Linked DNA regions of Homo sapiens: all the other regions are linked to region 2. The links come from fine-mapping of genetic effects on gene expression. A gene starts in region 2. Each other region holds a variant in brackets. All regions are shown on one strand. Distances are from middle to middle.

The links. PIP is the estimated chance that this variant, and not a neighbour inherited with it, causes the effect.
Region 1: its variant is fine-mapped to the expression of ERGIC1 in whole blood (TOPMed, PIP above 0.99).
Region 3: its variant is fine-mapped to the expression of ERGIC1 in whole blood (TOPMed, PIP above 0.99).

What each region holds. Positions count from the first base shown.
Region 1 is chr5:172,796,346-172,806,760 of GRCh38, forward strand. No RefSeq gene overlaps it. Among named protein-coding and RNA genes, the nearest start is that of DUSP1, 30 kb to the left of the region's middle. RefSeq lists a cis regulatory region at 5,912-6,820 and an enhancer at 9,470-10,286. The variant A/G (reference allele first, on the strand shown) is at 4,121.
Region 2 is chr5:172,829,954-172,840,368 of GRCh38, forward strand. It overlaps ERGIC1 (endoplasmic reticulum-golgi intermediate compartment 1), which reads left to right and starts at 4,298. Exons shown (of 10, transcript NM_001031711.3): 1 at 4,298-4,480. The coding sequence starts at 4,461. LOC124901135 (a long non-coding RNA gene) reads right to left here. Exons shown (of 2, transcript XR_007059054.1): 1 at 10,246-10,415; 2 at 7,397-7,620. RefSeq lists silencers at 4,151-4,550, 4,921-4,970, 4,981-5,060 and enhancers at 5,044-6,036, 5,531-5,740, 6,037-7,028.
Region 3 is chr5:172,928,592-172,939,006 of GRCh38, forward strand. ERGIC1 (endoplasmic reticulum-golgi intermediate compartment 1) reads left to right here. Exons shown (of 10, transcript NM_001031711.3): 8 at 3,845-3,945; 9 at 6,597-6,719. Among named protein-coding and RNA genes, the nearest start is that of MIR10523, 19 kb to the left of the region's middle. RefSeq lists a silencer at 2,719-2,788 and an enhancer at 3,736-3,805. The variant A/G (reference allele first, on the strand shown) is at 5,136.

The sequences.
Region 1 (10,415 bases), 34 kb before region 2:
TGCACGCGAGAAGAAGCAGGGCAGGGATCCCTGCCCTTCTGGCCAAATCCAGCAGTCAAGATGCTCTTGAGTTAAAAAGGGCCAATCGCTCACCCCAAATGTGGGGGTCCCTTGCATGCCAATGGAATGTTCTTGTCACGTGGCCTGCCAAGGGGGGATGCTCTCCCTTGTCCTTAGGGTGGAAACAGGAGAGGCCCCATAGATGTCAGCAGATTGTCAGGTGACCGTCCAGCCCAGGCAGCTTGGCTCCAAGAGGCCAGGTTTAACCACTGGGCTCTCTGCTTCCCCGAGAGACCACTCCTATCAAAAGGTGAAGCTTGTGATTTGGGCCCTAAAACCAAAAAGCCAATGAGATGCTGGTAACAGAAGCCCTACCAGAGACAAAGTATCCCTTCGTGGTTACATGTGAAAGGCTGGGCACAGGAGTATCAGGAAAACACAAACACAAAGAAAGCAGGGCTAGCAATATGGATGGCAGACAAGACAGAATTTGAGGAGAAAAGCATGAAATTGAAGGATAAGGGGACCTCTTTGTCTCCATGTGCCACCTCCAACTGGCCTCTCATTTTTATTATCCTTCCTAGACCTCTTCCACCTCATCCAGTTCTTCTGTGGCCCCTTGGTGGCCAAGGCCCGCCCTCTTCATGCCCCACGAGAGATGAGCCAGCCTCCAGGTCTCCCACTGCTGCTTGGTTTCCTTTCTCAGGGGCCTTTGGGAGGTTGAGTTTTTTGTTTTTTTTTTTTTTTTTTGAGACGGAGTCTTGCTCTGTCACCCAGGCTGGAGTACAGTGGTGCCATCTTGGCTCACCGCAACCTCCACCTCCCGGGTTCAAGCAATTCTCCCGCCTCAGCCTCCCGAGTAGCTGGACTACAGGCGTGCACCACCATGCCTGGCTAATTTTTGTATTTTTAGTAGAGATGGGGTTTCACCATGTTGGCCAGGCTGGACTCGAACTCCTGACCTTGTGATCCGCCCACCTCAGCTTCCCAAAGTGCTGGGATTACAGGCGTGAGCCACCGTGCCCAGACGAGGTTGAGATCTTTACTGCTTGGTCTTCTTTGACCAGACATGGCTATTATCCCCTCTCTCCCCCAGTTTCCAAGGTTCCAACTCTGCCTGTTTTCAGGGCACTAGGGAGCTTGCCTCCCAGAAGGAGTGAGAGCGAGGGTGGACACCCAAAGGCCCTCTGCCTGGCTGGTTGCTCACACAGCTGTCTTTGAGTGAAGCGTCTGGCCCACAGTAGACATCCATAAATGTGTGTTGCCTAAACTCAACTGAACCCTTAGTCTATAAATTCTGTTACTTTAACTTGAAAAAAGTGATGAGGAGGTCTTATCTGACAGTATTCATCCTGAGCTATAGAGATCATTCTAGAAAATTTCCTACCGAATGTTTTCAGCTAGAAAATAAGCTCACTGGAAGCCCCCAAGCCCATGCCTGTCCCTTACTTCCTTCATTCAATGAGCATTGATCAAGATTGCTACCCAGCACTTGATGTTGTAAGAAATGCAAAACTGTGTAAGGCTTCAAGCTGCTAACACTATAGAAAGGACAGGAAGTCCTCCAGCCATGGGTCGATGTCTATGGAACATCAGCTATTTGCTCCCAGATATTGATTACTTACAGTGCAACAGGAAACAGAACACTTCGTGGAGCTCATAGTCTCCAGCGGGGGTTGACAGACATCAAAACCAAAATCACAGCCCCAAGCGCAATCATCCCAAGCCCCCATCACAGTACCAGGCACCCCATGCAAACAGCTGCCTTTCAAGACACTCGCTTCAGAGTTGGGCTCAGCTGGCTAGCACCTCAGCTGCATCACTTACTTTGTGTGACCTTGAGCAAAAGGTATAAACTCCCTGAGGCTTAGTTTCATTTTCTGTAAAATGTAAATAATAATCACTTTCTTCCTGGGGTCATGATAAAAATGAAAAGCAATGACCCAAGTAGCTGGCATATCATTATTATTATTATTATTATCATTATGATAATGACCATGACAATATAATAAATACCAGATGAATGGCACAGAAATGGGAGAGGGAGGGAATACTTCTTCCTGGAGAGAGGATGGTATGAGGATAATTTTCGGGAGAAGGTGGGTGTTGGTGCTGAGCCCTAAAGGAGGGGTTGGATTTCTATACAAGGAAGTGGCGAAGAGTGAATCAGTTCAAAAGTAGAAAAATGAATGATTCAGAAGGTCATTAAAATAAAACAAATAAAGAATCTAAACCAAATGACTGGGTTCCTTAAAAATAGGACATTGCATTGCCAAGCTAAGAAGCATTAGTCAGGCGGAGGAGGTGGCTACTGGGAAATTTCACCCAGTTCAGCATTATTGAGAAGTTGTGGGTTCCTGAAGCCTTCAGTGGGCGTTGTGCAATCCTGAGGGGTTAAGGTAACCCAAACCCTGGTCCAGGGAGTGAAAGGGAACTGTATAGGTTGGGGTCAATATTAGAAAAAAGCTCCTTGAAAAGCACAGTGGTCTCCACGGAAAGTGGTTAAGTGTGTTGGAGGAGTCTGGGGCGGTTCTACGGGCCAGGGGGCATCTGTCCGGGGAGCCATGACAGAGAACATCTGGAAGGCAGGGACTGTGCAGCCCGGGGTCTGGGTCTGACCCATTCATTCTCCCTGCAGTGTCTTGCAGTCTCTCCTTGCTTCTCTGCGCACTCTTCTGCGACAGGCACACTCCACCTTCCCTGTCCAACGGGTGGGGCTTGGTAGACGGGGCTCAAACCCCAGCTCTGCCACTCACTTGCTGTGTGATATTGGGCAAGTCACCTCACCTCTCTGTGCCTTCATTTTCCATCCATAAGAAGGGTGATCATAATAGGATTATGGTGAGAAATAAATGAAACACGCCTGACACACATAGGTCAGAAAATGTTAGTTCCAGCACCTTCTGTTCTCCTCCTTGTCCTGGCCTCATCCTCTCCTTCTCTACCTATTCTGATGATTTCTTGCTGGAGGTGACCATGGATTCTATTAGGCAAATAATTGAACACCTCCTGTGTGGTGTCCTGCCAGACAATGACAAATGTCATTGATTCATTTGTGTCATTCCACTTACATTAACAAATAACTATAACAGGATGAGCATTGTTCTTAGAATGAAAACAAAAATATGATACACAGACAAAGGGACGAGGGGCATACAGAGATGGAAAGGAAGTGGCCAGGGACTGGGAAGGGAGGAGCCAACATCTGCAGTGCCCCTGTTGTGTGCTGGGCATGGAGAAGGACCCCCAGGATCAAGAGAAGAATGGAGCCCAGCCTGGGCTTTGGAGGTGCCACGGCGCAGTGCGAGACAGACGCGCAAGCCTAAATGTTGGGGGTCCCAGGAAAGACTGTGGTTTTACTGTCTTGGGTGAGCTGGGGAAGGCTTTTGAGAGGAGGTGATAGAGGAGCTGGGTGCTGAAGGTTGAGTACTTACCAGGAAAGGCATTTGAAACAAGAACAACCCATGTGAAGGCCGAGCGGCATCAAAGAACAGAGTATTTGGGAAATAGTTGGGTGTTTCTTTAGAGTAAGTGAAATTCAACCTTTTCATTTAGCATAGGAACAGACACAGAGTAAGTGCTCAGTTAAGTGATTGAGCGTGGGTCCAGCACATTGGTACTGTTAGATCGTCCATCAATTTGCCCCCAGCTCTAAGCCTATATTCCTCGGGACAGCCCCATCATCTTCCAGGATGAGGGCAGCCTCAGGGTCAGAGGGAGGAGAGAAGTGAGCTACAAACAAAGAGAGGCAGTGGAGTGGGACAGGCCAGGGCTCGCTTCTCAGGGGCCTGTGCAACGTCTTTCCTGCCTGGGGCCGAATGTTCTGTTCCCTTCCCCGGACAGAACCCGAAGGTTGAGCCAGCCCGCTGACCCGGGCTGAGCTAACGGGAAAGTGGGCCGCACTGGGCCCCAAGTCATCAGCTCACCCTGATGAGCCAGGCCCTGGAGATTCCACCAGCCCCAGGCAGCATTTAGAGAAGTACTAGGCCGAGTCATCAGCTCTGTGCAGTCACTGCCTGCTAGGGCTGCGCAGGGTGAGTGGGGAAATAAACAGATTGCGGCACTGAGCCGTGGGAACCAAGCGCCGGGGCACTGGAGCTCTCTCCCTGGGTTTGTTACC[A/G]GAAGATGGTTATGTAATCAGCTCACTCATGCCTTCAACAAGCATGTATTGAGTGCCGACTGGGTGCCAGGCACTGTTTCTAGGCTCTGGAAATATAGCTGGGACAGATATAGAGACCCTGCCTCAGGAAGGTGACATTCTGGTGGCCAAACGCATGCGAACACTGTCCTCCCGCATTCAGTGAGTGTTTACCGGAAGCCAAGCTCTGTCCCAAGCACTGTGCTGATGATATCTCATTTCATCCTCTCTGTCACTGTAGGAGGCAATCTTTATTGTTATCCCATTTTACAGAACACACTCTCCTGCCTTAAGAACCCACCAGCAAGAACCCCCTTCCCCACATCTTCCCATGGTCCTTCTCATCCTTCAGGTCAAATTGCTTCTCAAAAGGCAGTGAGGGCCAGGCACGGTGGCTCACACCTGTAATCCCAGCACTTTGGGAGGTCGAGGTGAGTGGATCACTTGAGATCAGGAGCTCGAAACCAGCCTGGCCAACATGGTGAAACCCCCTCTCTACTAAAAATAAAATGTAAAAAAATTAGCCAGGCATGGTGGCGCACACCTGTAATCCCAGCTACTCGGGAGGCTGAGATGGAGAATCACCTGAACCTGAGAGGTGGAGGTTGCAGTGAGCCGAGATAGTGCCACTGCACTCCAGCCTGGATGACAGAATGAGACTCCACTCAAAAAAAAAAAAAAAAATGCAGTGAGGTAAGGTGGGGCACAAATGGTGACAACTTGCCTTACTCTCAGCTCTTGGTGATCTAATGGGTCAGGAACGAGGGGCCTAGCATCCTCTGATAACAGTCAGGCCCTGCCCACCCAAAGCACTCTCCTGAACTCACTGGAACTTAGAACTTTCAAATGCTGTCAGAGCCTTGTAATCATGCCTTTTCCAGCATTCCTTAATCATCATTACTCTGGGCTCAGGCATTTAATTGCTCATCAGTTTCTTCATACTTTCATGAATGGAGAATTTCTTCATTCTTTCAGGGCGAGTACAGCCTTTGGTCAAATTGTGCCGTAGGTGAGTACTCCCCACCGCACCAATTCTACCCCTGCCCCATAACTGGTATTCTGCCATATGCCTTCACTTACTCACATGAGCCCTGCTGTGTGCCAGGAAATTGGGTCAGGAGCCCCAAGGGAGGCAGAGGAAGAAGCAGCCACCATGATCAGGGGCCAGAGAGAAGGTGGCACCAGGGAATTGGTGAGCCCAGGGATCGTGTCACCCCACAGGGCTAAGAAAAACATTGCCTGCCATCAGCTGCATCTGGAAGGCTAATAGAAGTCATCCAGGTTCAGGGCTGTCTGGGAAGAGAGGAGTGAAAGGACATGTGGCCTTTGGGGAACCTGGACATAGCCAGGGGTGCACCACAACATCTGGGGAGTAAAGGGGCCCAGGCAGCCAAAGGGCCAGCAAAGAGATGAGGGTGGCCAAAAGGGCAAACTCATGGGAGGTCTTCAGATTGGGATTAAGAATTTAACTTATTCATTCAAGAATGAATTCAAGTTGTTGAGCCATATTTCTGATCTAGGAACTGTCCTAGACCTTAGAGACTTGACTACGAAGAAGAAGGCAAGGCTCCTGCCCTCAGTGGAGTCTACCTGGTAGTGGGAGAGTTGGAGCCAGACTGCACCTGCTCACAAGAACAGGTTGTTTTAGATTTTCAGGAATTTGGACAGCCATGTGACATCACTTTGGTAGTTTGAAATTGGCCACAGTGGGTATGTTTACACCACAGAAATTGGCAGACGCTGTAAGGCAGCCTCCCCACTACCCACAACCATCCTGCACCCAAAAGCCGATGTTAAATATTTGCCAGGATACCACTAGGGGATATAGACAATAAACAAGTAGGCAGATAGGCAAATGTGGTAACAATAGATTGTACATAAGGGAAAAAATCAGCAGGGCCTTATGGTACAGAGGGACTGATGGGATGGGGGTGACCAGGGATGGCTTCCAGGAAGTGAAGTCACCTGAGGCTAATATTTAGATCCTGAGGAGGAAGGAATCAGACTTTTATTTTGTTTGTTTGTTTGTTTTGTGTTTTTTTGTAGACACAGGGCCCTACTTTGTTGCCCAGTCTAGTCTCAAACTCCCGGGCTCAAGCGATCCTCCCACTCCAGCCTCCCAAAGTGTTGGGATTACAGGTGTGAGCCACCATGCCCAGCTAGAACCAGGCTTTTGAAGAACTGGGACAGTGTTATAGACTGAATTGCTACCCCCTCAAAATTCATATGTGGAAGCCCTAACCCCCAATACTTCAGTATGTGAATGTATTTGGAGATAAGGCCTTTAAAGAGGCAGTTAAGTTAGAATGAGTCATCACAGTGGGCCCTAATCCAATGACTGGTGTCCTTATAAGAAGAGGAGATTAGGACAGACACCAAGGATGCGTGAGCACAAAGAAAAGACCCTCAGAGGACACAGTGAGAAAATGGTTATCTGCAAGCCAAGGAGAGACCAAACCTGCCGGCACCTTAATCTTGGACTCTCAGCCTCCAGAACTGTGAGGAATAAACTTTTGTTGTTTCACTATCACACACTATCCAGTGTATGGGATTTTGTTATGGCAACCTTAGAAAGCTAATAGAGACAGTATTCCAGGTAGATGGTACAGCAAGTGTCAGCAGCCTGGGGACATGGAGGGAGGCCAGTGCACCTGGAGCACTGTTGGGAAGAGGGGCCTTGATAAGGTACCTTTTCAGAAATTTTTTTTGTGGAGACAGGATCTTCCTAGGTTGCCCAGGCTTGATTCAAACTCCTGAGCTCAAGGGATCCTCCCACCTTGGCCTCCCAAGTAGCCGGGACTACAGCCACACACCACTGTGCCTGGCTAAAGTATCTGGTTTTCATTTAAGTGAGTTGGTGACCATTTGGAGAGGTTTTATTTTTTAAATTCATTTGTGACTTATTAAGATGACTTTTTTCGTGATCTTTCTAATATTTTCATTAAAAACTTTTAATTGGTATTAATATATAATTGTACATATTTATGGGGTACACGTGATATTTCAATACATGCAGACAACCTGTAATGATTAAATCAGGGTAATTGACATATCCATCATCTCAAACAGTTATTATTTCTTTGTACTGGGAATTTTCAAAATCCTCTCTTCTAGCTGCTTCAAAATAAATAATAAATTATTGTTAATTATAGTCACCCTGCTGTGCCATAGAACATCAGAACTTATTTCTTCTATTTAACCGTTTGTACCCATTAATCAGCCATTCCCTACCCCTCCTTGCCCACTTCTCTTCCCAGCCTCTGGTAACCACTATTCTACTCTCCACCTCTATGGAATCAACTTTATTAGCTCCCACTTATGAGTAAGAACACGGAATTTATCCTTCTGTGCCTGGCTTATTTCACTTAGCATGATGTCCTTCATTTGGAGAGTTTTAAGCAGGGAGTAACAGTATAGAGCTCAACAATAATCATTTCTTCTTCTACCAAGAAGATCCAACCAAGATTCTACCAAGAAGATCGTGGGGGATCCAACGAGATGGTGAGCATTCCAACTGTTAACTGCTCTAAATATGATGAAATGTGAGACAAATTGGGAGAATGGTAATAAGGGGGAATAATCCAACTTAGAACAAGGAGAGTCAGAGGTAGACGGTTTAATGATGGGAAGTTCTTCTCCCTCTGTAACAAGCCAAGAGGCAACACGCCTGCAGAAATCAGCTTCTAGATTCAATTCACCTCAACAAGTATCTAGTGAGCCATGCCTGATGTGCCAGGCTTGTTCTAGATTCTGGGGATAACTGAGATTTAAAAACAGCAGACAGTCCAGGTGCAGTGGCTCACACCTGTAATCCCAGCACTTTGGGGGGCTGAGGCAGGAAGATTGCTTGAGCCCAGGAGTTCAAAACCAGCCTGGGCAATGTAACGAGACCCTGTCTCTACACGAAATACAAAAATTAGCCAGGTGTGGTGGCACACACCTGTAGTCCCAGCTACTCAGGAGACTGAGGTAGGAGGATCGCTTGAGCCTTGGAGGTTCAAGGATGCAGAGAGCTATGATTACACCACCGCACTCCAGCCTGGTTGACAGAGTGAAAGCCTGACTCAAAAAAAAAAAAAAAAAAAAAAGCCAAAAACATAGAACAAAACCAGCAGACAAAAATCTCTGTCTTGTGGAGTTGGCATTCTGGGGTGCGTGTAGGGGAGTTGGGAGACAGCAAACATGTAAGTAAGATATAGGCTATGTCAGGTAACTGTGGTGAGAAAATAAAGCAGGGGAGCATGGGGAAGGGTGCTTGGGTGGAGAGGGGTTGCCATTTTCAACATGACAGCCAGGGAAGACGTCAGTGAGAACATGACACTGGAGTGAAGACCCCAAGAAGATGATGTGGATGCTGCAGGGCAGGCCTGTGGGCCCCAGTGAGATGGGGACCCCTGGAGGGTTGTGAGCAGGAGAGAGACACAATCACTCTGTGTGTTGTACCAAGAATAAACTCTCACAGGGAGACAAGGAGACCGGGTGGGAGGTTACTTCAAGAATCCAACAAATGCCCTTTTAAAAAATTGAATGGATGACCGCAGGCCTGTCCAGCCCAGAAGCCACATGTGGACATAGTATCTCCTCAACCTTCAAGAATATGTCTCCTAACACATGCAGCCAACTTTGGAAGGGATGTCACAGATCATCATGGGCTGATGTAGCTGTCCAAGAGATGGCATTGAATTTAAAAATTAGGTTGCAGAACAGCATAATCCATTTTGTGCATGAAAAGTGAGTAGGTGATAGATAATAATAGAAGATAGATGATAGATAGATAGATAGATAGATAGATAAGGATAGACAGATAATAGGTAGATGGTAGGGAGGAAGGGAGAGAGAGAGGGAGTGAGAGAGGACGAAGGAAGGGAGGGAGGGAGGCAGGAAGGGAGGGAGGGAGGGAGGGAGGAAAGGGAAGGGAACAGAAGAAAGGAAGGAAGGGAAGGAAGGAAGGAAAGAAGATACGGAGGGAGGGAGGGAGGAAAGAGAAAGGAACAGAAGAAAGAAAAGAAGGGAAGAAAGGGAAGGAAGGAAAGAGGGAAGGAAGGAAAGAAGGAAGGAAGGAAGGAAGACAGGCAGACTCAATACCCACTTGGTACTGGCTCCTTCAGCTGCTCTCCTGCTGAACTGAGGTCAATCCCACCAGAGCCCATCTCCTTCCAAACCACAAATTCAACCCTATAGTATTGCCAAACATGTGGATTTTAAAAAGTATTTTCTTTATTATGAAATATACATATAAGGAGTATATATGTTCAGGTCCACCATATTGCCAGAACCCAGTGTCTCAATCACATAGATTTTACTGCTGTTTTCCTTTAGAGATGGAGGAGGGTGTTGCACCACACAAGGCCCATCAAGGCTTCTGAAAACTTCGCTTAAGTGCCCCTTCTCTTTTCCCCAAGCTCCTCTGTCCACGGCATCCCTGACGCCCCACCCTGCGCTGTCTGTCAAACGCCCCTCCCAGCTCCGCAGCACTCTGGCCGCCTTGCTTCTCCTTTCTCTTCCTAACATTTCCAAAGCTGAGAGACTGAGAACTGGGCAAAACAAACAGTGGGCTGAGGGCCAAACTGGGATGCTACGGTCCTCCAGGACTTCCCTGGGGGCCTGCTCAGACTCACAAAAAACTCTCTACAGGTGTTACCTTGGGGAAGGCTCAGGGGCTTTAGCTTACCACTTGCCACCCTTTTGAACAATTTCTTCCTTGGAGGTATGTCGGTTTTAGAGAGACAGTAATCATACCCCCACCCAGACCTGTCACTCCCAGTTTGGGACACAGGGAAAGAGAGCAAAAGGAGGTCCTCGATCCCTGCCTACCCCTTCCCTTCCTGCCCCTGATCCAGCCTCTGGGAAGCTGTGTGGACAGCCCAGCCTGAACTTGTCTTGCCCGCACTCTCACCCCTAAAGCTGCCCTTTGGTCATCCCTCAGCCCTAGGTCTACTCTTGTTAGATCAGATGTGGAAAGAGGCCTAGGTAGGCCCTGGAAATAGATTTGGGGATATTTTAGCAGGGAATTATGTCCTGGGTGCCCAGAGCATGGGGTGTGGAGTGGCAGAACAGAGGGGAGGTTAATACTGCATCCACCCAATGATAAGATTACCAGCATCTTTATCCTTTCATCACCTCTTCTGTATTCTGTATTTTCTTTTCTTTCTTTTTTTTTTTTTTTTTTTTTTTTTTTTTTTTGAGATGGAGTCTTGCTCTGTCACCCAGGCTGGAGTGCAGTGGCGTGATCTCGGCTCACTGCAAGCTCTGCCTGCTGGGTTCACACCATTCTCCT
Region 2 (10,415 bases):
TTTTTTTGAGACGGGGTCTCCCTCTGTCACCCAGGCTGGAGTGCAGTGGCTCCATCTCTGCTCACTGCAACCTCTGCTTCTCAGGTTCAAGCAATTCTCCTGCCTCAGCCTCCTGAGTAGCTGGGATTACAGGCATGCGCCACCATGCCTAGCTAATTGTTTTTGTTTTTAGTAGAGACGGGGTTTCAGCATGTTGGTCAGGCTGGTCTCAAACTCCTGACCTCGTGATCCACCTGCCTCTGCCTCCCAAAGTGCTGGGATTACAGGCGTAAGCCACCACGCCCGGCCCCTAAGACAGTTTTTCTTCTTCCAGCGTGGCCCAGGGAAGCTAAAAGATTGGACACCCCTGCCTTAGAAGAATCACTTGCAAACTCACCCACAGGGGCTTTTCCTTAGGGCACAGAAGCCACACACAGAAGCCAGCTTATCCAGGGTGACTGATCCAAGAGATAGCAAGAGAGTGTCCAAGACAGAAGTCACCATCTCTTGATAACCTAATCTCAGAAGCAACATGCTCATCACTTCTGCCATATTTTGTGCATTAGAAATGAGTCCATAAGTCCAGCCTACACTTGAAGGGAGGAAATTACACAAGGGTATGAATACCAAGAGGTGGGTTAATTGGGACAATTTCAGAGGCTACCTGCCACAGGTAAGGTATTATTATCCTTCATTTCATACCTAGACACCCAGCTAGTTAAGCAACTGGTCCAGGTCACCCAGCAGAGAGTGATCTGAGTCCAAAGTGGTTTTCTATTTCCCCAGGCTGGCGGGGGGTGAGATGGAGGAAGGCAGGGAGAAGTTACTGGTAGGAAAAAAAAATAATGAGGATGGAGTCTCTGTTATTTATCTACTGCTGTGTAACTAATTACCCACAACTTAATGGCTTAAAGCAAACATTTATTATCTTATAGTTTCTATGGATCAGGAATTCGGGAGCAGCTGAGCTGGGTGTTTCTCAGGGTCTCTCAAGAACCTGTGGTTAAGCTGTGGGCTGGGGATGCAGCTTTGAAGCCCTGACCGGGGCTGAGCCGCTACTTCCAAGAGAGCCCACTCACATGGCTGTTGGTGGGAGGCCTCATTCCTCACCGACCAGGCCCCTTTATAATCGTGCTTGAGCCTCTTTAGGACAGGCAGTTGGCTTCCCTCAGAACGAGTGATTCAAGAGTGGCTAAGCAGAGCCTCAGTCTTTTGTGACGTAGCCACAGGAGTCATAACTGTCGTTTCTGCAATATCCTGTTGATTACACAGGATAGGTCAGCCCTATTCATTGTGGGAGGTGATTCTAGAAGGGCATGGGAATACCAGGAGATCAGGGTCACTGGAGGCTGGCTACCTACCACAGGCTTCCACAAGATTGATAATCCGAAAACTTAACTTGTATTGTTGTTCCCTGCTCAAAGAGACCCAGAGCCTTCCCACGTACTGCAGACACAATCTGATTTTCTTAGCTCCATCTCCCACTGGCTCTTGAGTGGATGGACCATCTGGGACTGACAGCCTGGTCTGCTCACAGACCTCACCAGTCCCACAGCGGAGGCCCATGTTGATACCTCCCCTCCCATCCGCTGTTCTGTTGGTAAGGCCTGCCTCCGTGGGAAGGCCTGCCTCCCTGGGAAGCCTCTATTCAAACTTCAACGCATAGTTAGTGCATCCCCAGCATGTGCAGGGTCTGGCTGGATGCTAGGATATGATGGTGATACCACCTTGTCTCAGGGAACTTTCCTTTTTTTTTTTAAATTATACTTTAGGTTCTGGGATACATGTGCAGAACGTGCAGTTTTGTCACACAGGCATACACGTGCCATTTGTGTATGGCATCATTGTTTGTGTACCCATCAACCCGTCATCTACATTAGGTATTTCTCCTAATGCTATCCCTCCCCTAGCCCCCTACCCCCCGACAGGCCCCTCTCAGGGAACTTTCACTCAGATGGGGTAGTAGTTACTAGCGAATTAATAATAACCTAATCACACGTCATGCCCAGTTCTCCCAAGGAAACCTACAAGGTACCATGCGATTATGTAATAGGGGACTGGCCTAGTCCATGAGCATTGGGGCAGTCAAGTAGCTAGCCAGGCTGCATAGGTGTATCAGCATTGGGTTTAGGTGTAAGTGTCTGAAAATACAGAATAACAATAGCTTAAATAAGATAGATGTTTGTTTCTCTTGGGCAGGTGTTTGAGGACAGGTATTTTGCCACTTAGAGACAGGAACTCAGGTTTTTTTTTTTTTTTTTTGAGACAGAGTCTCACTCTGTCGCACAGGCTGGAGGGCAGTGGTGTGATCTGGGCTCACTGCAACCTCTGCCTCCCAGGTTCAGGCGATTCTCCTGCCTCAGCCTCCTGAGTAGCTGGGATTACAGGCGTGTGGCACCACGCCCGGCTAATTTTTGTATTTTTAGTAGAGACAGGGTTTCACCACATGTTGGTCAGGCTGGTCTCGAACTCCTGACCTCAGGTGATCCGCCCACCTCGGCCTCCCAAAGTGCTGCAATTACAGGTGTGAGCCACTGTGCCCGGCAGGAACTTAGGCTCTTTTTGTCTTGTTGCTCTGCTCTGTGGTGGCCTCCACCTTATGGTCCAGGATGGTGACGCCTACATTCCTGGCAGCCAGATGGAGAAAGGGACACAGAGGGTAAAGCAGACATACCAACTATCCCAGATGCCCCACAAGACACTTCCCTTTACTTCTCAATGCCACATCTAGCTACAAAGGAAGCTGGGGAAATGCAACTTTCACTGTGAGCACCCACATGCCCAGCCAAAAGTTGGGAGCTCTATCCCCACTCGAAAAGAGCAATGATAGTCAACCCTGTCTTGCATTTACTCTGTGCCAGGCATTTGCTGACCTTGGATATCATCCCAAATGCACACTTGATTCAGTAGGTCTGGCCTGGGGACAAGAGTCTGTCCTGTGATGGCCATGTGGCTGGTCTGTGGACCACAGTTTGAGGAGGGAGGATTCGAGGTCAAAGATCCATCATTGCATGTTTCCTCCCACACAGGGCCAACGAATGGCTGTTTGGAAGCAGTGGCTGCTCAAGATCCCTTAACTCTCCCTGCTGTCCCTAGGTTTCCAGTTCAGGCTGAGATTTCCTTTTCTCCCCCAACAGTGTCAGACCACTGACACTGAATGAATGAATGAATGAATGAGTGAATGAATGAAAAGGGAACGCAGAGGTCAGGTCCCGGCATATGCTCTAGGGGAAGGCTTTGGTTCACCACGTCACCCTACCCCAGACCCCGTGCTAGTGTTGTCCCTTCTGAATCCTCCCGGAGGAACCAGCACTGCTGTTCCCCTCTATTTACACAGGGGGAAACTGTCCATTGACTCTGCTTTTGGAACCCGAGCCCTCACCATTCTCCCCTGGGTTTTTTGAAGCCCTGTCCCACCACAACCTTGGAGAAAGGGCCAGTGACAGAACCTCGGGGAAGTTCAGAGTGAGTTTCCCCTACTCAGGTCTTGTGTGACCTCAACTACCATCTCCTCTAATCCAGCAGTCACGGAGGCAGCTGCTCTGTATTCCTGAGGAGGAAACTGAGGCTCTAAGAAGGAGACAATCGGCACAGTCCACGTTGGCCAAGTCACAGTGCAGGTCCCATCTGCCTCTGCCACAACCCTGCATGTTCTCGATGGACCTGGTTCAGAGCAGATGCTCTGTGAATGCCCACTGGAGTGAACGACAGGGGCAGATGGAAGCAGGGACAGCCACTGCCAGCCTCAATAGTTTCAGGTGCCTGGCACTGTGCTAAGCCAGTCTCCTGTTTCTCAGCTGATCCCCAGGAAAACCCCCTCAAGTAGGTGTCATCGTCCTCTTTGTGCAGATATGCAAAAGGGGCGGGGCGGGGGGGGGGCGCTCTGAGAAGCCCAGTGGCTTTCCCAGAGAGACACGGCAGGGGCAGAGGTGAGTCCACCTTAACAGCCTAGGATGGCCGACCTCTTCCCTTCCCCCACAGTATTAGGCCCTCACTCAGAGCTAGACGCTGTGCACGGCCAAAGTCTGTATCACCCCGCCCCCCGCCCCCAACTCAATCACAGTTCAGTGAAACTGTTTACAAATGCAAAAAACTGGGCTCGGAGAAGCAGAGAATTTGTCCGAGGGCATCCAAAGAGATGGAGAAGGAAATCTAAGTGGGAGGCTTGAAGGAATGAGTACTGGAGTCTTTGGGGGACTCCCTTCCCTTCCGACAGCCTCGACTCTCCGCCCCTTCCCTGCCTGCCCGCGGGCCCCTTTAACCGGGTGGCGGAAGGGGCGGCCGGGCGGGCGGCGCCCAATGGGCTGCGCGGAGCGTCACTTCCCGGCAGCGGGAGGCGAGTGGCGAGTGGCGAGTGGCGAGTGTCAGGGGGGCGGCCGGCGGGGGCGGGGCGGCCGGAGGAGGCGTTGGCAGCGGGCTCGGACCCACGCGGCGCCGCGGCCCGCCTGGCCTGCAGCGCTCCCACCCCCGGCGGCGGCACGATGCCCTTTGACTTCAGGAGGTGAGTGTGGCGACCCCGGCCAGTCGGGAGTTCCCTCAGCGGGCAGAGGGAGCGCCCCGGCACGCCGCGGACCCCTCCCGCCCTGCATGCAAAAGCGGCTCCCCGCCCTGTGCATGCCTCCGCAGGCCCCTAGGGACCCCAGGCGAGCCCCCCCCCTGCCGCACACGAAGCCAGCCAGAGCCGCGGAGGCCCCCTCGTGCAGCGGGAGACAAATCCACCCACCTTCCCTCCGCCGAGCCCCCTCCCCAGCCTGCCCGGATACCTTGCATTCCCCTCCCCCACACTAGGAAACATTTCCTCCCTCCTCCCAGATGGGAACAGCCCATAACACCCCAGCATCCCTCTCCTCCCTCTACTGAGCCTCCTTGGTGGACCCCACCTCAGCTGACAGGTGGGGCAGGGCACCTGGAATGAGTCCGGAGGGGCCTGGGGCCCCATGCAGCCTGCCGGCAGCTGGAGGGTTTTAAGTTTCTATAGCCTGAGGCTCCCCCAGGCCGGGCAGATCGGGAGGCCTGCCCCCGCCCCTCCCTCCCTCAGCCCCAGCCCTGTCCGCTGGGTATGGGGGCACCATGGGAAGGGGAGGAGGCGCCTTGGGCAGGACTCTGCAGAAGGGCCACCGGGGTCTGGCCTTGGCTTTCTGCAGTCACCACAATGGGTCCTTTGTGGGGTCCAGCTGCCTCATGGTCTAGGTTGCATGGGGCATTCTGGAAGCCTGCGGGGGAAGAGATCTCCACCAGAGGTTCCCTTGAGGTGTGGAGCCCCAGGGGATGTCCTGGCCTGAGGCAGCCACACTTGGTGTCTGGCTGGGAAAAGAGCAGGGCTTTAATGCAGGGAGGAGCTGGATTAGAATCCTGGCTCTGCCCTTTCTACTGAACAGCTCGGTATATTCTAGAAGTTAGGGGCAAAGGCTCTGGGTTCAGAACTCCCTGTCGCCGCTCGGCTGGCTGACCTCAGCAAGTCTCCGAGCGCCCTCAGTTTCACCACCTGCAAATTGGGGCTAAAAATAAGGTCTCCGCTTGTGACGACTGAGTGCGTGAAACACCCTTAGCAGAGTCTGGCATGATTTAGAGCTCAGAAATAGGGCATTAGTGGATGGGGGGTGTTCTCCAGGAGGGGTTTTCCACATCCACAAAATAGTGATTCAGATGCCTGTGCCACAGGAGGTATTTCTTCCCCTCTTCTTGCATGTGAAGGCAGTGTAAAGTGACAGTCTACCCAGAGAGAAAGGCCCTTAGCCTGCCATGACCCCCATAGCATGGGATATATTGGGGTTTAGGCCCAAAGAGGACACTGGTCTTGGACCTCTTGATTGGTTGACATGGTTTTCCAGCCTGTCCGGGTCCCTGATACCAGCTAGCAAATGTTTGCCGGCTTCTTGCCCCTGCCGGGCAGCCCTGAGGCTAGCAGACCTAGGCAGTTTTGAACAAGGACAGCCCCTCTGGTGGAATTCAAGGTCAGTCCTAATAGCATCAGTTAAGTCTGGGCCATAAGAGCTGTGGTCGGCACATCAATTTCTGGTTCCACAAAGCCTCCCCTTACCCAGGCCAACCATAGGGATTCGTGCCACCGCCGCCCCCTGCCCCTGTGTGATTCAGTAGGTTCCGGTGATTTTGAGCTTGCTGGGGAAATTGCTGTTTTTGATCTTTTAATCCTTTCTCCCTGCACCTCACCCTTCCGTCTTACCAAGGAGGAAATGAGGCTCCAGGGATGAGGGCCTTATCTTGGACTTTATGGGTGCTAAATGGGAAGGGTAGACTTAGGTCTCAGGTCACACATGGCTCCCAACCTTGTGCTCCTTGAATTGGTGGCTTGTGGGGGCAGGTAAGGGAAGTAAGGAAAATGGGTAAGGCCAGCTCTAGCCTTTGGCCTTGGAAGGGCCCTGTGTCAGGCATTGATATTTAAAGAGAGAAATGCTCAGCTCTGAGAAGCTGGCTAGTCTGGGGCTCCCTTGGCATACTTCAGGTCCCTGAGTGCCCAGGTGTCAGGGGGCCCAGCTTAACTAGGAAATACTCTCAGGGCTTGGGCTCACTGCGGAATGGTGAGAATGGATTCAGTGCTTCACGTTTGCACCTTGGAGGATGAGCCATGTGTGCCCAGCAAACCTGCACTCTTTAAGCTCTGTGAACTTCAAGGCTCCAGGACCTGGGTTCTACTGAGGGTTCGACCATCCCCATGCACCTTCCTCCGCTTCAGTGTGCATTCATCAAGCATTCATCAAGTGTCCAGTCCATGCTCAGCCCTCTGCCACAGGCCCCACCGTGAGGAGGTGGGTGGCATGTGGTCCGGCTCTCTTTGCATTCCAAGAGAAGGGAGGAGGGCTTATGGGGTCCCAGGAGTGGGGGTGTGCGTGAACTGGCACGCAAGGAGCATCTACCACTGTATACACACTTTGGGGTGCAGACATCGATTCCCTTGTCACCTGAGAGAGGGAGTTTTAATCTTCATTTTAAATCAAAGGAGAGGGGAGCTCCACTGAGTAGAAGCCCTTTGCTCTGGCCATGCAGTGCATGAGCTGGTGGATCTGGGATTTGAACTTGGGGCTGTTAGCTCCAAAGCCTTAGATCTGGGAGAAAAGGGAGAGATTGGAGGGGCCCACCATCCTGTCAGCTCTTTTAAGAATTGTGGGGAGTGGAGAGGGGTATACCGTGATTAGACCTCCTCCCCCAGTTCAAGGCCAGGGAGAAAACCAGCCGTCCTGCTCGTGTTCCCCTTCTTAAAATCAGAAGCAGGAAAAATAGTGCACTCTTGCCCTTCCCTACGGATACTTCTGATTTTCTTACTGCCTGTAGAGCCTGGTGCAACTGAGTTCTGTGTTTTCCTGTCTGTGAAATGGGAATGAGGAGAGTACTCACCGAAGTAGAACAGTTGAGGGATGAGGCAGTGCGGAAAGCATTTAGACACAGAGTAAGCGCCTCATCCATTTTGGCCGCCATATTTATTTGTGTCATTTTATTTAAGCACCCATCATCTCCTAACACATTATATAATTCACTTAATTATCATGCTGCTTCTCTCTCCCTCCCATTAGTACATGAGCTCCTGAGGGCAAGAAGTTTTTATCAGGCTTCTTCAAGGTTGCATCTCCAGCACCTAGAACTGTGCTTGAGCCAAACTCGATCCTTGGAGATGCCTCTTGAAATCTGTCAAGGAAGCCATAGACATGACGTGACTTGATATGCCAGCTTCAGTGGGCAGATTTTCAGCCATTAGTGGAGAAATCTCCCCTCTCCACCCTTGAATCTGCCGTTCCTAGGTTGTTTTTGGGGTTAAGGAAGGAGGCAGAACGCAGGGGAGGGAGGCTGAGCTTTCAATGATTTATTGTGTTTGCTTTGCTCTTGTTAAATTGTTTCACTAATGGCTGGCTGTTGCAGTTGTGGAACTAGCCTTGTGACCCACATCCGTGTGTGTTGTTTCGAGTTCCGGCTGGCCTGGGGCCAGTAGCACCTGCTGCCTTCTGCACACCAGCCCAGGGTGGGTGAGGAGGGAAGATAACAGCATCCGGAAGCCCTGTGCCCAGGCCCAGTGGTGCCTGAGCACTGCCTTCCGGGAGGTGCAGGTGGCTGCTGTCCCACAGTGACAGCCCCCATGTTGAAAACCCAAGGCCTCGGGGGTGCCGCTGCACTGGCACTGACCAGATGTGCTCTGGGACCATTGACTTCCCCTCTCGGAGCCTCCATTTCTTCATTTTAAGGAGGGGATGTAAACTTCGCTGCCTCACCTGGTAGAGTAGATGTAGGGGCAAGTGTGATCAATGCACACTTGCAGGATCAATGTGCAATGCAACTTGCAATGCAGGATGAGGCCCATAATTTGTGGGGCCCAGTGCAAAATGAAAATGTGGAGTCCCTTGTTGAAAAAGTATTAAGAATTTCAGGACGGCAGCAGCAGCGCATTCAGCCAAGCATGGACCCCCCTCTGAGTGTGTGACCCTGTGTGCCTGCACAGGTCATGCGGCCCTGATGGGGCTGGCCCTGCTGCAGGGCCTTGGTTTGGCCTCTACCATTTTTCACTCTGGCCTTCTGAGTGGTCTTTCTCCCTCCAGGATACCCCAGACCTCCTCAGGACTCCCTAGTGAGCTTTCCAAAGTTGATCTGATATTTTCATGTCCTGATTTCAACCTTCAAATGGGTCTCATTGCTCTAAGGATCCAGTGTGAATTCCTTTTTAAAAAAAAATTATATAGAGATGGGGTCTTGCTATGTTGGCCAGGTTGTTCTTGAACTCCTGGCCTCAAGTCATCCTCCTTCCTTGGCCTCCCAAAGTGCTAAGATCACAGGCATGAGCCACTGCACCTGGCCCAGTCTTAATTCCTTAGGCCCCAATAGGGAATGGGACCCTGGTAGCCCCATCAGTTCCTACACCAAGCTAAGCCTCAGCCACCACAGGGACCTCTGAGCACAGAGTTAACATTCAGCAGAGAGTAGCTAACATGAATGCCTGTATTTCTACCCTGCTGTTTCTTCCAGAAAGAATTCCAAGGAAGCTGACAAGAACATATACTTTACAGCAAGTTTTAAAAAATATAAAATGAGCGCTGTGGCTCATGCCTGTAATCCCAGCACTTTGGGAGGCTGAGGTGGGCGGATTACCTGAGGTCAGGAGTTTGAGACCAGCCTGGCCAACATGGTGAAACCCCGTCTCTAATAAAAATACAAAAATCAGCCGGGCTTGATGGTACATACCTGTAATCCCAGCTCCTCGGGAGGCTGAGGCAGGAGAATTGCTTGAGCCCGGGAGACGGAGGTTGCAGTGAACTGAGATCTTGCCACTGTACTCCAGCCTGGCCAACAGAGCGAGACTCTGTCTCAAAAAAAAAAAAAAAAAAAAGTATATATATATGGGCCAGGTGTGGTAGCTCACACCTGTAATCCCAGTACTTTGGGAGGCCAAAGTGGGAGGATTGCTTGAGGATTGCAGGAGTTCAAGACCAAGCTGGTCAACATAGCAAGACCCCAGACCCCATCTCTATGGGGAAAAAAAAATGGCCAGGTGTGGTGATGTGCGTCTGTGGTCCCAGCTTCTTGGGAGGCTGAGGTGGAAGGATCTCTTGAGCCCAGGAGGTGGAGGCTTCAGTGAGCCATGTTCATGCCATTGCATTCCACACTGGGTAACAGAGCAAGACCCTATCTCAAAACACACACACACATACACACACACACACATACACACACATACACATACACATATAGCCTTAAAAATCAGGGCAAAAAGAAAATAAAAATTAGACCAGAGAGAAAATTATGTGAAAAGGCCAGTATTTCGGGTTTATTGAACATTTGCTAGTGCCAGGCACTGTTGTAAGGATCTTACTGTATCAGCCCCTTTAATTCTCCACAGTCCTACAAGGGAGGTGCTGTTGTTACCCCACTTTACAGGTGAGCCAGTGGAGGTGCCACAGAGTTCGGAAACACGGTCGTTCCCGTTCCTGGAGCTGGGATTGGAACACTGCCATTTGGCACCAGAGCTCCACTGTGTCCTGTAGGCTCATCTCTAAAGCTTTCTCTTTTCCATTCACTAAATTCAGAGAGAACTGAGAACTCTTCTAATTGGATTCATTGGGTTTCTCTTCACTAATCCTCACCCAACAGTGCTCATTAAGAAGCTTAAAGCCATCAACTTTTTTCCCCCTAGCCTCATGTAGCGTGATACCTGATTCTGAAATGGTCTTTAAAGACCCTCACACCAGCTAATGGCATCACCCTCGAGGGGCTCAGTTTTCCCACGCTGACCAGTGGGGGTTTTCCAGCTTAGAGCATCATGTTTACCTGCTCGCGGGGACATGGAATGAGATGGAATGTCCTCTCCTCCCAAGGCCGTTTGGATTCCTGACTGTGGTGCTGTAGTAGCAGGAGACAGGGCTTTAGCCAGCTGTGTCCTGGTTAAGTTACATTCCCCATCTGGTAATCCTTTCGTATTTTATTTGGAGTTACTCCTA
Region 3 (10,415 bases), 99 kb after region 2:
TTGCGCCAGCTATAACATGGCACTCTGCCTTGCCCACTGCTTTGTCCCCAGGACCCAGCCCTGTACCCAGGGTATAGTAGGTATATGATCGATGATAAGAGGCCTGGAGGCCACTATGGAAGAGCTCCTGCCAGATGGTGGTGGAGTGCGGTCATGAGGACCTCGGCCTCCAGTGTCCCCCTCCACTCTTTCCCAGCCCTGTGGTCTTGGGAAAGTCATTTAACTCTGCTAAGCCTCAGTTTCTGCATGTGTAAAGTGGGAAGAATCCTCTCCACCTTAAGCCTTGCTATGAGGATTAATGAGATGCGTGTACAGAGTTTAGTACACGGCCTGCCACATTGTGAGTGCTCAATAAATGTTGGCCGTTCTCTTCATTATCGTCAGCAGCTAACTTCAGGAACGAGATCCCCTAGGGCAGAATCTAAGGAGAAACTTTCCTATATCAAATTGTATCTTGTATTGTGGTACTGAATTGTTTAACTGGTCCTGAATGATATAACTGGAATGAAACCAGCTTGTCATGTATATGTATACACATAATATGGGCTGTCATATATATATATGTGTGTGTGTGTGTGTGTATATAAGTATACACACACATACATATATATGGGCTGCTGGTTTTAAGAATGCAGATTCTGGGCCCCACTCCAGTGGCGGGATAGGGATGAAACAAGATTGGCCATACGCTGGTAATTGCTGAAGTTGGGAAATGGGTACGTGGGAGTCCATTATACAATTCCCTATGTTTTAGGTTTGAATTTTTCTGTAAGAAGATTTTGCGGGTAGGGGAGGAGGAGTGAGCTTGAAGGGAATGTGGGCTGGCCTAGACCAGGTTGGAGCCAGCAGTCTCTAGGAATGGTCAGCTCACAAGGAATCCACATGGGTGTAATTAACTGCAGTGTCTCCAGTGGGCATTTGGCAAATTGTATCAAAGGCCTTAAAAATGGTCATTGCCTTTGAGTCATCAATTGTACTCATAGGAGAGTAAGCTAAGGAAATAATTAAGAGAGTGTACAAAAATCTAGGAAAATAATGTTCATTAGGTCATTGTTTATAAAATTGAAAATGAGGAACCACGTCAGTGTCCAGCCATAGGGGGTTGACTGAGCATGGTAACTGCCCAAGATGAGCGAGGTGTGTCAGGACCTTACTGGCAGTCAGGCAGCAAAGATTTATTGAGCACCTACTATATGCTGGGCATTGGGCTAGGTTCTGGGGATAGAGAGATGAATAAAACAAACTCTGCAGAGCTTATGTTCTGTGTCTTAGACCTGAAAAGTTGATCATGATGTTCAGTTCTTAGAAAAAGATGGCTGGGCGCGGTGGCTAACGCCTGTAATCCCAGCACTTTGGGAGGCCAAGTCGGGTGGATCACGAGGTCAGGAGTTCAAGACCAGCCTGGCCAAGATGGTGAAACCCCCATCTCTACTAAAAATACAAAAAATTAGCCAGGCGTGGTGGCAGGCGCCTGTAGTCCCAGCTACTCAGGAGGCTGAGGAAGGAGAATCACTTGAACCCAGAGGGTGGAGGTTGCAGTGAGCCGAGATCGTGCCACTGCACTCCAGCCTGGGTGACAGAGTGAAACTCCGTTTCAAAAAAAAAAAAAAAGATACGGTATGGTCCTATTTTAGGAAAATACAAATATATGTATAAACATGTCTGGCAGTTTATATGTGAGACTGTGAACCATAGTTTTCTGAGGATGGTGAATTTATGGTGATTTTTTGTTTTGTCCTTGGTGATCACCTGTGTTTTGTACAATTTTTTTTTTTTTGAGATGGAGTCTCGCTCTGTTGCCCAGGCTGGAGTGCAGTGGCAGCTCACTGCAACCTCCACCTCCCGGGTTCAAGCGATTCTCCTGCCTCAGCCTCCCTAGTAGCCGGGACTACAGGTGTGTGCCACCAGGCTTGGCTAATTTTTGTATTTTTAGTAGAGATGGGGTTTCACCATGTTGGCCAGGTTGGTCTTGAACTCCTCACCTCAAGTGATCCTCCCACCTCGGCCTCCCTAAGTGCTGGGATTACAGGCGTGAGCCACCACATCCGGCCTTGTACAAATTTTAACAAGAAATATTACAGGGGTGATTTTGATAAGGCATTCACTTTTTCATTCCTTCAAGTTTTTAACCTAGGGCAATGGGCGTTTGGACACCACTATCAAGCGTGGTCTTGGGCTCTTGTTTTAAAAATGCAAATTCTGAGCTCCACCCTTGACCCATTTGGCGGGATGCTCCTGGAAAGAGGTCCAGGTGTCTTTTTATTCCAAATGATTCGACTGCTTCTGACATCTGAGAACCATTACAGGGTTGAACAGAGGGATGTTGGAGTCTTCATGGACTGGGCTCTGCGGCTGCAGGACTTTTCTCGGGTTTTCAGAGGAACCTACTCAAAACAATTCAAGAAGCACTTCCTTTGCTTACTGAGATATGGCTTTGGCAGGAAGGGGCAGGGAGGGAGTGTCAGGGCAGTGAATGCTGTCTGCATTCCCAGCCTTCTTACAGAAGAGGACTGACTCGACTCTGCGACCAGGCTTAGAACCCACAGGCCTAAATTTCTGTGTTATTTTAGCTCTGTAGTCCGTGACCCGAGATTGTGGAAGGCCCATGAGCTTCCTGTAAGCATCCCAGAAGGCCCAGGAGAGTTCATACCTTTCCTGAGTGATATTTGGCAGCTCTGGGCCAGCATTCTATCAGCCCAGCATTGGATTCCAGTTACCTCACGCTTATCAGCAGCTGATTCATCTGTGCTTTCATTCATGCCCCTGTCCAATCATCCTTCCATCCGTTCATTCATTCAGTAAGCATTTGCCACGGTCCACTTGGTACCAGGCCCTGCACGGGGCTCTGGGGACACAGAGTTGAGTAAGGCTCCATCCCTGCCTTCAGCAGCTCCCCCATCCAGGAAGAACTGATCTGCCGTTGATTTCTTTCCCCATTCTCAGTTCATCAGTGCTTCATTGGTGCAGTTTTTCTGGTTGATAGGCTCTTTTCTTTTTAATACTGAAACCTAGTTTGTTTTAAAAGTAAAACTATTCAGACAATGTCAGAGGATGTACAATGAAATGGGATCTTTCTCAAATCCTGCCTTCCTCCCCAGAAGCTAAAGCTGCCCGTGGTTCCTTGGGCATCTTTCCAGATAATTCTCCTATATATTTACATGGATACAGAGTGTCTCCTCCTCCCCCAATCCATGGACACATGTGTATCCTGTCCCATGACTTGGTTCTTTTCCCTGTTGGAGAATAGCTGCTCCTAGCACCCACACTTTTTTTTTTTTTTTTTTTGAGACAGAGTCTTGCTCTATCGCCCAGGCTGGAGTGCAGTGGCATGACCTTAGCTCACTGCAACCTCCGCCTCCCAGGTTCAAGCGATTCTCCTGCCTCAGCCTCCTGAGTAGCTGGGATTACAGGCACCTGCCACCACGCCTGGCTAATTTTTGAATTTTTAGTAGAGACGGGGTTTCACCATCTTGGGCAGGCTGGTCTCGAACTCCTGACTGCAGATGATCCACCCACCTCGGCCTCCCAAAGTGCTGGGATTACAGGCGTGAGCCACCACGCCTGGCCAACACTCACTCTTTCATGGTTGCTCTATTGATGGACATTTGGGTTGTTTCCAGAATTTTAATGATGTGCACAGTGCAGGAGGAAAGATCCTGATGGATAGAGTCTCCCAATTCCCGGTATCCAAGGGGAGAAGATGAAGAGCAGTTGGTTGGTGGTAAAACTGGGGAATGAGCCCCCTGCCGTGCCCAGGGAATTTAGGCTTAGGATTGAAATGACATAGAGCTGTCAGCGGGCAGTGCCCGTCCCCCTGCTTCATTCTGCTGTGTCCTTCCCGCAGCCCTGGCCTCCCACGACTACATCCTGAAGATTGTGCCCACGGTTTATGAGGACAAGAGTGGCAAGCAGCGGTACTCCTACCAGTACACGGTGGCCAACAAGGTGCGCGGGCGGTGGCTGGGCCGAGCTGTGTGCGGCGGCGCCCTCTGCTGACGGAGAGCAGAGATGACAGGCGGCTGCACCGACGCACTTTCTTCTGATTCCTTTCTGGAGGCCTTTCCTGGGGGTTAGCTTGGGCCAGGCGCTGTCCCTGGGTAAAATTGAAAAGCCCAGTCCCTGCCATGTGGCAGTCTCAGAGTCAAGGAGAACAGATCTAACCAGGAGATAGGGTGTGATGCGTTTGACAAAGAGCAGGTAGTCTCTGTCCTACAAAGGTCCTGGGGTTGCAGGTCTCAAACAGCCCTGCATCTGGTCCGAGTCCTTCAGACACAGACCCCTGGGTGCTCAACACAGACAGACACTCCTGCTCTCAGGGCACAGGCACTTTACCCAAACTCATGAGGCTACTGAGTCACACCAAGATGGCTGTTGATTAATTTGCTGTTGATTGACAGGGGTGTCCCCAGGACCCCAACACTCAAAGTCATGGAGAAGACGCCAGGCCTTAGTGGGCAGCAGAGCATGGTCAGAGTCTGCAGAGTGGGATGACCCAGCAATTAGTGGTCTCAAGACAAGACAGCCTTGGGCTTCCCTGGGGGTATCCCACCAATGGGACATGAATACTTGAAACCTGTTGGTTGAAATGCCCCTGCTAGACCCTGGCGGATGGGTTTTTCCCACTTACCACCAGGACTGTCCTTTTTCTTCTGTTCCAAGGCTGCCCAAACCCCTTATAAGTGATACCTGTTTAGCTCAGTTAATTATAACAACAGTAGGAGGCATAGCTGTCACTCATTGAGTACTTCCTGGGGGCTAGACATGCTAAGCTCTCTTCTTCCGTCTTCTCAATCATCATGACAGCTCTGATGTTGAGACTGTTATTGAGCCCATTTTGTTGATTTGACCATTGAGGCACTGAGAGGTGGTTGTAGAGCTATAAAGTGGCTGAGTGGGGATTAGAACAGGTTTTCCTTGGGCTCCAGAGCCTGGCTTCTTGATCACCTCACGCCTCGGTCTGAGGAAGGGGCTGTGAGTCTGCCCACCTGCGAGCTGCTCTCTGTCCAATGACTTAGTCCCTCTGTTCTGACTCACCCTAAATTGATGTTCCCGGGAGCCCCTGTTTCTTTTATTCACTGTTTCACAGGGGGCATCTCATTGTAACCCTCACATGCTCATAGCAGCTAACAGATGGA[A/G]AAGCACAGATGCAAGCTCAGGACCACGCTGCAGTTCAAATTCCAGCTCAGTCATTCACTAGCTATTGACCCCGGACATGTCACATAGCCACTGTGTGCCTCAGTTTACTCATTCATAAAATGGAGATGATACTTTATAAGAGTGCTGTCACATGAGGCAATGTTTTCAAAAATGCCTAGCCCACCAAAAAAAAAAAGCCTTTAGGTAAGTGATACTGACTGCTGCTATTTTTCACTCTTTTTCTCTGTCCCTCAGCTCTGGGTTGTGACCCAGACAGTCATCCTGCCCCAGCAGCTCTCCTGGAGAAAGCTGGTCTTCCCTTGCACAAAGCTCCTTTTCCCAATGCTTTGGCAAGGCCCAGCAGCCAAATACAGCTTGCTTAGCTTCTCTATGGCTGCAGCCGCACTCTGCCCTGGGAGCAGGCAGCAGCGACCCAGCGGGAGGTCAGGGCTCAGTGTTACTTACCCCCGGAGTGGCCTGGGCTCCTCAGGCTCAGCATGTGGGGTTGGGGGTACCCCAGTGGTTCAATTTGGCCTCCAGTTGTTGCAGACTTTAGCACCTTGAAGTGCCCAAACTGGAGAGATCCCAGGGATCATCATCCCAGGCCCATCCGTGTTTAGATGGGGAAGCCAAGTCCCTGAGGGAGGGAGGGGCTGGCCCAAGGATGCACTGTTAGCTCAGCCTCGTAGTATCCTTAGTCCCTGCTGTGTGCATTCTCAGGAAGGTTGGTGGCAGGGCGGGGCCTTCTGGCTTTGCAGTTCAGTCTATTCCTCTGAAGAAGCTAGCCCACTCCCCACGTGGCATTTACACCCATCACACACACACACACACTGGGACTCCTGCTTATTCATCATGTGTGGCTCAGAATGTCCCCTCCCCAGTCTCCCAGATGCCGCCCGGGAGAATGGGTCATTCATTCATTCCCCTCAACTCTCCATGTTCCTCCATCCCACATGCATGATGTCACAGTGTTAGGGATATTCTTATGTCTTCCTCCTTCTGCAGACTGCGACTCCCTCTGGGTAAAGGGCAGGACTTGCTCACCTCGGGGTCCCCAGCAGCCAGCCATGGGCCACCACAGTGGAGGCGTTCAGCAAACCATTGTTGAATAAATGAATGGATTTCGCGTGGCCCAGAGGTTGAAGGAGGCAATAGCCAAAAATTGCACTTTTCCTTTTACAGCTCTGCTTTCTAATTTATTTTCTGATTCTGGTGCTGCTTGCAGCTCACTTGGTCAATTTCTAAACAACCAAGGGTATCAAAAATGCCCAGCTGTGCACGGCAGAGTTCAGGGCCTCCAGGGGAAGGGATGTGAGAGAGGGAGTGGGGGAGTCTGGCTTCGTGGGGCAGAGAGGGAGGAAAGCCCTTTCTGGAGGGTTGCTGGGGGGCCCTCTGCAATCCAGTCCCCGCCCCCCCTGAGACACAGTTTGTACTTCTGATTCTTATATCCTCTACCCCAGGAATACGTCGCCTACAGCCACACGGGCCGCATCATCCCTGCAATCTGGTTCCGCTACGACCTCAGCCCCATCACGGTCAAGTACACAGAGAGACGGCAGCCGCTGTACAGATTCATCACCACGGTGAGTGGCCTGGGGCAGTGGGTGGGGCCCTGAGCCAGCCACCCTGCGCCTGCTCTGGGCCCCTTTCCTTGGCACCCCTCACCTGTTCTCGCTGAAACAGGAGGCAGCCTGCAGGGCTAGGGGCTCTGGCTGGGCACAGGAGGCTTCGACCCCAAGGATGCTGAGAAATGTTGTCAGAAACACATCAGTATCGATGACGTTTTGTCTAGAAAGTATTTTCCAGAGGGGAATGCCCTGAAATCCATTTAATTCCTGAAGCAAATCTCCATATGGTTCCACTAGATGTTTAGGATTTTCTCCAGCTTTTTATTGTTATGGAAATTATTCTTAGCAGAGTTTATCCTTTAATGTGTAAATTTTGCACCAAAGATTGAACTCATTTTTTTTTCCAGGTCTAATTTCCAGTTATAGCTGCTGATAGGGTCCGATTTTTCCCTTTCCTTCCTCTCTGTTCTCTCTTTTTTGCCATGGTCTCTACCACATCCAGTTTTCTCTAGGGCAGATTCAAGCTGATGTTAGTTTTCCTTTATGCTGATTATTTCTATCATGTCTACTGTTTCCTGGCCTCCCATTCAGAAGGTCCTTAGGGTCAGAACAGGAGGGTCAGGGTGCCCTTCTTCACCCAAGAGGCCCAGGAGGTACTGAAGAAGCCAGAGTTAGCTGAGGTGGAAGAGACAGGGTGGCTATCCCTACTTCACAGATTTGGAAACTGAGACCTAAAGATAAATATGGCATTGGGAGGCCCTTATGCTTCTGTACTTCTTCATGCTTGTAATGATGGTTCAAGATCAAGGGCCTTGGCTCTTTCATTTCCCGCAATAACTAGGTCAGTATTAGTCAGGACTCTGTTACCGAAGATCCAGAACCAGACCTTGAGCTGGCCTGAGGAGTAGAAGGCCTCAGGCATGGCTGGATCCAGCCTCCAACATTGCCAGGAGTAGGTCTCTATCTTCGGATCTGCTTTCCGCTACACTGGCTTCATCTTCAAGTAGAATTTACCAGTAGAAATGGCCTCTTTCTCAGTCATTCTAACCAAGTCCTAGATAGGACAGAGCTCTCACTGGCCCAGCTCAGGCCTCATGCCATCCTTGTGGCCTGGGAAATCAAATGCTCTGGTTGGCCAGGCTTAGGCCCTGTACCCTCTCTGGTGTCAACCCCATCCAAACCGCAGGGACACAGATTGTGAGGAATGAGGTTTCTCAAGAGAAAAGGCAGGGGCCAGCTACTGGAAGAGGAAAGAGTGGGTGCCAGGAGGCAGAACAGTGGGATGTTGTGACAGGGTCTCTGCCTTCTCATCTGTGAAGTAAGAACGATCATCTCTGTTCCTGCCACCTCCCAGGGCCTTGTGGGACTCAGAGGAGATTGTGAAAGGAGAAGCTGTTTGCAGATGTGAAAAGCCAAGTAGGACGGGGCACAGTGGCTCACACTTGTAGTCCCAGCAGTTTGGGAGGCTGAGGCGGGAGGATCGCTTGAGGCCAGGAGTTTGAAACCAGCCTGGGCAACATTGTGAAGGCTTGTCTCTAAGAATCTTCTTAAATTAGCTGGATACGGTGGTATATGCACCTGTAGTCCCAGCTACTTAGGAGGCTGAGGTGAGAGGATCACTTGAGCCCAGGATTTTAAGGTTAGAGTGAGTCATGATCGTGCCACTTCACTCTAGCCTGGGCAACAGAGCGAGACCCTTTCTCTAAAAAACAAAAATCCCCAGAAAACAGACAGAGAGATACAAAGGGTGTCATAAGTCTGGTGCTTACATGAGCCTCAGAACAGTTTTTTGCTGTTCTCTTTGACCACATAAAAGTTAGAAACTCCTGTTCAACAAACGGCACATAACATAAAGCAAAAATCTCACACGCAGCCTGGGAAAAGATACTTGCCATCCAAATGGGAAAGGGGTAGCCTTCAGAATTCATATGTAAAGAACTCCTACAGATCAGTAAGAAAAAGTTAACAACCAAAAAAGCAGACAAGGCCAAGGACCAGCTCTTCACAGAGGAGGTGATATTGGCAGTGAAAAGATGCCCAAGTTCACTAGAAATTGGAGGGATGGGATTTAAAACAAGACTCAATTCAGGCCAGACGTGGTAGCTCACACCTGTAATCCCAGCACTCTGGGAGGTGGAAGCAGGAGGATGACTTGAGGCCAGGAGTTTGAAACCAGCCTGGTCACCGCAGCAAGACCCCCTCCCTACAAAAGAAAAGTTAAAAAATTAGCTAGACATAGTGGTGCATGCCTGTAGTTTCAGCTAGTTGGGAGGCTGAGGTGGGAGGATTGCTTGAGCGTGGGAGGTTGACACTGCAGTGGGCCATGATGGCGCCACTGCCCTCCAGCCTGGGCAACAGTGAGACCCGGTCTCAGAAAAATAAAAAAATTAAAAGACCCAGTTGAATCCTATTGGACTGACAGAAATTGAAAACTTGCCCGGCTCACACCTGTAATTCCAGGACTTTGGGAGGCCGAGGCGGGCAGATCACCTGAGGTCAGGAGTTCAAGACCAGCCTAGCCAACATGACAAAACACTACTAAAAATACAAAAATTAGCGGGGCATGGTGGTGGGCGCCTGTAATCCCAGCTACTTGGGAGGCTGAGGTGGGAGAATTACTTGAACCTGGGAGGGAGAGGTTGCGGTGAGCCAGGATCACTCCAGTGCACTCCAGCCTGGGCAACAGAGTGAGACTCCGTCTCAAAAAAAAAAAAGAAAGAAATTGAAAACCTGCTACTACAAAGATTGGGAAGATGTGAAGCCCTGGGAACCCACATGTGCTATTGGTGTGCAGGGACATGGGTACAGCTACCCTGAGGGGAGATGCACAAACCCCAGGACCCAAAAAATCAGGGGATTTGTGAGCAAATGATTTAACCCAAGACCCCGCAGGGTAGCACACCCCAAGTGGGTCTTGGTGCTGATTCTTACTGCAGCTCTCCTACTCCACACCCACGATAAGCCACACACAAAGATACAAGTAGGTTCCCTGGTGCCTCCATGAAGGTCTAGACCACTCCTCAGAGGCCCTAGGGTCTGTACATTGACTATAGCAGAGAAACCCCCTCCAGCCATGCCTCACAGTAGGGTTCAGAAGGCTCTTTTCTGTCCCCGTTTCTGTTTGCTCCTGTATGGAAAGCAGCTGAGACTCTGGGCATTACAATCATTTGGCAATGGCCGGGCACGGTGGCTTATGCCTGTAATCCCAGCACTTTGGGAGGCCGAGGCGGGGGATCACTTGAGGTCAGGAGTTCAAGACCAGCCTGGCCAACATGGCAAAACCTCGTCTCTAGTTAAAATACAAAAATTAGCTGAGCATGGGGGTGGGCACTTGTAGTCCCAGCTACTCGGGAGGCTGAGGCCGGAGAATCCCTTGAAACCCAGAAGGCGGACGTTGCAGTGAGCTGAGCTGATGCCACTGCACTCCAGCCTGGGTACCAGAGCGAGACTCTATCTCAAAAAAAAAAAGAAAAAAAAAAAGAAATCGGCCGGGCACGGTGGCTCACGCCTGTAATCCCAACACTTTGGGAGGCTGAGGCGGGCGGATCACCAGGTCGGGAGTTTGAGACCAGCCTGACCAACATTGTGAAACCCCATCTCCACTAAAAGTACAAAAAATTAGCCGGGCATGGTGGCACATGCTTGTAGTCCCAGCTACTTGGGAGGGTGAGGCAGGAGAATTGCTTGAACCTGGCAGACAGAGGTTGCAGT